2 linked regions of the Homo sapiens genome follow. The protein of the gene in region 1 purifies or fractionates together with the protein of each later gene. This does not show direct contact. Each region holds a gene or a part of one and is shown in the gene's direction. Other genes may lie near its edges.

Evidence for each region. Proteins that work in one complex are often made in the same cells at the same time.
Region 2: the proteins of H2BC12L (region 1) and ELK4 purify together in Homo sapiens (co-immunoprecipitation; one large-scale study listed by IntAct). This does not show direct contact.

Annotation. Positions count from the first base shown.
Region 1 is NC_000021.9:43,563,594-43,566,217, forward strand, and holds H2BC12L (histone H2B type F-S), read left to right. Parts: upstream 1-1,588; 5' UTR 1,589-1,645; coding exon 1,646-2,026; 3' UTR 2,027-2,055; downstream 2,056-2,624. UniProt on the Homo sapiens protein: Core component of nucleosome. Nucleosomes wrap and compact DNA into chromatin, limiting DNA accessibility to the cellular machineries which require DNA as a template.
Region 2 is NC_000001.11:205,622,010-205,625,666, reverse strand, and holds part of ELK4 (ETS domain-containing protein Elk-4), read left to right. Parts: intron 1-5; exon of another isoform or gene 6-282; intron 283-1,775; 5' UTR 1,776-1,784; coding exon 1,785-1,991; intron 1,992-3,657. UniProt on the Homo sapiens protein: Involved in both transcriptional activation and repression. Interaction with SIRT7 leads to recruitment and stabilization of SIRT7 at promoters, followed by deacetylation of histone H3 at 'Lys-18' (H3K18Ac) and subsequent transcription repression.

The DNA of each region.
Region 1 (2,624 bases):
CAGTAAAGAAGAAAAAATTAAATGGGCCAAGAAAAACATCCCATTGAATTTTTTAAAACTAGTTTTATAAACCAACTGTATTAGTCCATTTTCACGTTGCTGATAAAGACATATCTAAGACTGGGAAGAAAAAGAGGTTTAATGGACTTACAGTTTCACATGGCTAGGGAGGCCTCACAATCATGGTGGAAGGTAAGGAGGAACAAGTCACATCTTACATGGATGGCGGCAGGCAAAGAGAGAGCTTGTGCATGGAAGTTTCCATTTTTAAAACCATCAGATCTCATAAGACTTATTCACTATCACGAGAACAGCACAGGAAAGATTCACCCCCATGATTCAATTATCTCCCACCAGGTCCCTCCCAGAACACATGGGAACTGTGGGAACTACAAGATGAGATTTGAGTGGGGACACAGAGCCAAACCATATCATTCAGCCCCTGGCCCCTCCCAAATCTCATGTCTTCACATTTCAAAACCAATAATACCTTCCCAACAGTCCCCTAAAGTCTTAACTCATTCAGCATTAACTCAAAAGTCACAATCCAAACTCTCATCTGAGACAAGGCAAGTCCCTTCTGCCTATGAGCCTATAAAATCAAAAGTAAGGTAGTTACTTCCTAGATACAATGGGGATACAGGAATTGGGTAAATATAGCCATTCTGAATGGGAGAAATTGGCCAAAACAGAGGGGCTACAGGCCCCATGCGAGTCCAAAATCCAGCAGGGCAGTCAAATCTTAAAGTTCCAAAACAATCTCCTTTGATTCCATGTCTCACATCCAGGTCACGCTGATGTAAGAGGTGGGCTCCCATGGCCTTGGGTAGCTCCACCCCTGTGGCTTTGCAAGGTATAGCCCCTCTCCTGGCTGCTTTCATGGGCTGGCATTGAGGGTCTTCGGCTTTTCCAGGTGCACGGTGCAAGCTGTCAGCGGATCTACCATTCTGGGGTCTGGAGGACGGTGGCCCTCTTCTCACAGCTCCCCTAGGTGGTGCCCCAGTAGGGACTCTGTGTGGGGGCTCCAACCCCACATTTCCTTTCTGCACTGCCCTAGCAGAGGTTCTCCATGAGAGCCCCATCCCTGCAGTAAACTTCTGCCTAGACAACCAGGCATTTCCATACATCCTCTAAACTCTTGGCAGAGGTTCCCAAAACCCAATTTTTGACTTCTGTGCACTGACAGGCTCAATACCACATGGAAGCTCCCAAGGCTTGAGGCTTGCACCTTCTGAAGCAGGACCTGAGCACTATGTTGGCCCCTTTCAGCCATGGTTGGAGTGACAGGGACACAGGGCACCAAGTCCCTAGGCTGCACAAAGCACAGGGACCCTGGGCCTGGCCCATGAAACCACTTTTTCCTCCTAGGCCTCTAGGCCTATGATGGGATGGGCTGCCACAAAAGTCTGTGACATGGCTGGAGACATTTTCTCCACTGTCTTAGGGCTTAACATTCAGCTCCTTGTTACTTATGCAAATTTCTTTAGCCAGTCTGAATTTCTCCTCAGAAAACAGGATTTTCTTTTCAATCGCATTGTCAGGCTGCAAATTTTCCAAACCACTTCCCTTATAAAACTGAATGCCTTGCATTACTTCCCGTTTTCACGATCTGCTGCTCGTCTCAGGCTCGTAGTTCGCCTTCAACATGCCGGAGCCAGCGAAGTCCGCTCCCGCGCCCAAGAAGGGCTCGAAGAAAGCCGTGACTAAGGCGCAGAAGAAGGACGGCAGGAAGCGCAAGCGCAGCCGCAAGGAGAGCTACTCCGTATACGTGTACAAGGTGCTGAAGCAGGTCCACCCCGACACCGGCATCTCCTCTAAGGCCATGGGAATCATGAACTCCTTCGTCAACGACATCTTCGAACGCATCGCAGGTGAGGCTTCCCGCCTGCCGCATTACAACAAGCGCTCGACCATCACCTCCAGGGAGATCCAGACGGCCGTGCGCCTGCTGCTGCCCGGGGAGTTGGCCAAGCACGCCGTGTCCGAGGGCACCAAGGCCGTCACCAAGTACACCAGCGCTAAGTAAACTTGCCAAATTGATGCCTGCAGCTCCTGGGGAAAGTGGAAGTCAGATAACTCCTTTATGAAAAGGCAGCATTCAAAAACTATAAAAAATATAAATCCAACATTATTAAAATTTTGCACATCCAAAGATATCACGAACAGTTAAAAACAAACCCACAAGGTGACAGAATATATTTGTCACATACTGACAAAAAGTTAAAACTCAAATATATAAAGAATATTTACAAATCAAATCTCATAAAATAAAAACTGTAGAGAATCTGAATAGACCATTCCAAGGAAAGTGGGAAAATCTCCAAATAGCCAAAAATCTCATTTAGAAAAACTCCGATTTCACATTAGGAAATGCTGATAAACAATAACTCTCAAGCACTGCTGGTGGAATATGGGAGTATAAATTTAAAATACTACCCTGGAAAGCAAATTGTTCATTTTTATTCATGTTGAATATGCACATTTACCAAATAATTCCACTTCCATGTAACCAGAAAATGCACAGCTGTATACAGTGCTGTTTTGTAATGAGGAAAAAAAATCAACAGAGAAATGAATAAAGTATTTACTGACAAAAAAAAAAAAAAACAAAACTGAATGCCTTT
Region 2 (3,657 bases), on another chromosome or scaffold:
CAGAACTGACCAGCTGTGAGATCAGAAGGCACCAGGTATTTCTTTTGGTCCAGGTCTCCTATCCGAGCTTTGGGAGCCTTTTCTACTATCACCGGCACCCGGTCCGGGTATTTCTTTCCAGTCTTCTTGCTCTCGGAGCCGCCCGTTTCTTGAACGGATGCTCTTCTTTGTACACGAATTTCATCCTGTTGGGAACCCGGCTGAACTAGGCTGGGCTGAAGGAACCTGGGGGAGCCGGGAGGTGGGTGGCAGTGATAGTGGCGACAAGTAGGCAGATTCAGCCAATGTAGAGCATTTTTTCGTGTGTTTATTGGCTATTTGTATATCTTCTTTGCTATGATGTCTTTTCAAATTCTTTGCTTTTTTTTTTTTAGTCGTAGGCGTTTTTTAATATATTTTGGATGCAGGCTCCCTTTGTGATACATGGTTTGAAAATATTCTCCCATTTGGGGGATTGTCTTCTCACTTGATGGCATTATTTGCAGCACAACAATTTTAAATTTTGTTGTAGTCCAGTTTTGATCTGTTCTTGTAGTGTTTTAATGGTATTGATATAATTTGTTTTCAAACTCTATTCTAACCCATTGAGATCTCATTACTAGAGAAAGGAAGGTTTTTTGTTTTTGTTTTTTTTTGTGTGTGTGAAGTATTCAATCATAAGATTCTTAGGACACACTTATACGGATTTGGCCAGAGTTTCTGCCCTAAAGAATTCTTCCTAATAGAAAGGTGTTTTGAAATTGTATGAGGAAAATACCTTTATGAGAGAGCATTCCTTGCTGCTCCTTTGCCTAAACCAATGGTTATCTACCGGGATGACTTTGACCCCTGGGGGAATATTTGGCAGTGTCTGGAGATATTTTTGATGGTCTCAATGGGGCAGGCGGTGCTACTGGCATCTAGTGGGTAGAGGCCGGGTATGCTGTTAGACAAACTGCAGTGTACAGGACAGCTTCCCACAACAAAGAATTATCTGGCCCCCAAAACCAATAATGCCAAAATTGAGAAACTCTGGCCTAAACAGGGAGATCCTGAAACTTAAGATATTAAAATATTTTTCTTCAATCCATGCCTTGATAATCACATAAAGATTGCTAATCAAAGGAGAATCTTTGCAGATGGAATCACTGTGGACAGAACAGTGACAGAAAAGAGAACACTTTGCTGAATTCAAAATGCTGCCAATTTGTATGTAAATGACATTTATGGTGATGGAAACCAGTTGGAGCAAAAGTAGATTATTCCCTACACCTCAGTCCCTGGGCCACCCTGAGATAGACACAAACACATACACTCACAGGCAGATAACCAAACCGGGTTGATTTAGACAGATGCTGGAATGGTGGTCTCCTGAGAGAATACAGCAATGAGATTTTAGGATTCAAATTTAACAACAGTGATTGACAGTCACTAGTGATTGACAATCATTGTTTTTTCCTATAATTTAGGGAACTAGCTTTATCCTCCTTGCAAGTTGCTTGTTGCTTAAGACATTTCTTAAGCAGCGTGGCATCCTTAAGAGTTTGGATTCTGGGTCCAGATTGCCTGGGCTTAGATCTTAGCTTCACCGTTTACTTGTGTGATGTTGTACAAGTTCCTTAACCCTCTTATGAATCAGTTTTTTCTTACGTAAAATGAGGATGCAGTAGTATCTACCTTATAGAAATGTGGGGATGAATTAATACATTTAGAGCACTTAAAACAGTGCATGACATACAGTGTTAAATAGGTGTTGGCTGTTAATATTATCACATATCTTATCTATATTCTTTCAGCTCATTGCTATGGACAGTGCTATCACCCTGTGGCAGTTCCTTCTTCAGCTCCTGCAGAAGCCTCAGAACAAGCACATGATCTGTTGGACCTCTAATGATGGGCAGTTTAAGCTTTTGCAGGCAGAAGAGGTGGCTCGTCTCTGGGGGATTCGCAAGAACAAGCCTAACATGAATTATGACAAACTCAGCCGAGCCCTCAGATACTATTATGTAAAGGTAGTACACATCCTGATCTTATACTATACAGAGAACCTCCAGACAAGAACGATTCCTTCTTGGCTGGGCACAGTGGCTCACGCCTGTAATCCCAGCACTTTGGGAGGCCAAGGAGGGTGGATCACCTGAGGTCAGGAGTTCAAGACCAGCCTAACCGATGTGGTGAAACCCTGTCTCTACCAAAAATACAAAAAAAACGTTAGCTGGGCGTGGTGGTGGGCACCTGTAATCCCAGCTACTCAGGAGGCTGAGGCAGGAGAATCGTTTGAACCCGGGAGGCGGAGGTTGTAGTGAGCCAAGATTGTGCCATTGCACTCCAGCCTGGGTGACAGTGAGACTCCGTCTCAAAAAAAAAAAAAAAAAGATTCCTTGTTTTCTGTTGAGGTTATAGATACCAATTTCCTAGTTTATTTTAATCCAGTGTATTTTGTAGCTTCAGCAGTTTGGAATTAGGATACAAGGTATAAATGTTCCGGCTGAATCTCTACCAAATCTTCTTCTTTTTTTTTTTTTTTTTTGAGACGGAGTCTTACTCTGTCGCCCAGGCTGGAGTGCAATGGTGCGATCTTGGCTTACTGCAACCTCTGCCTCCAGGGTTCAAGCTATTCTCCTGTCTCAGCCTCCCAAGTAGCTGGGATTACAGGTGGCCACCACCACGCCCAGCTAATTTTTTATTATTTATTTATTTGTTTATTTTTTTAGTAGAGGTGGGGTTTCACCATGTTGGCCAAGTTGGTCTTGAACTCCTGACTTGAGGTGATCCACCTGCCTTGGCCTCCCAAAGTGCTGGGATTATAGGCGTGAGCCATCACAGCCAGCTGCCCCAGATTTTATTTATTAACTTACTCCCATTACACATATTTTATTCCTAATTACAGTTGTCTTTAAAAGAAAAAATATGTACAGAATTGGAATATGACAAAGGCAATTTGAGATTCTTGAGGATAAGTAAATATTCTCATGTGTGTCATAATTTACTTTAAAAATTGTGAAGCCTGGAGTAGTGGCTCATGCCTGTAATGCCAGCACTTTGGGAGGCTGCAGCAGGAGGATCACTTGAGCCCAGAAATTTGAGACCAGACTGGGCAACACAGGGAGACCCCGTCTCTACAAAAAACAGTGTGGCGCGGTGGTGTACACCTGTAGTCCCAGTGCCCAGGAGGCTGAGGCAGGAGGATCACTTAAGCTCAAGTGGTTGAGGCTGCAGTGAGCCATGATCACACACCACTGCACTCCATGAGAACCCTGTCTTGTTGGGGAGAAAAGTCATATATGTACATATACACACACACATATATCTACATATATACGTTTTATATCTTAATTTTTAGTTTTAGTTTAACCCAGGGAACACAAATTAAAACCTTATACCTTAAGTAGTAGCTGTTTATACACAGAGTTGGTTTTTTAGTTAAAATTGCTGAGATCTTAATTTCTTTCACTTTTTTTTGTTTGTTTGTTTGAGACGGAGTCTTGCTCTGTTGCCCAGGCTGGAACACAGTGGCGTGATCTCAGCTCACTGCAACTTCTGCCTCCCAGGTTCAAGTGATTCACCTGCCTCAGCCTCCCGAGTAGCTGGGACTACAGACATGCACCACCACACCTGGCTAATTTTTGTATTTTTGGTAGAGATGGGGTTTCACCATCTCTACGGGAGGCTGGTCTT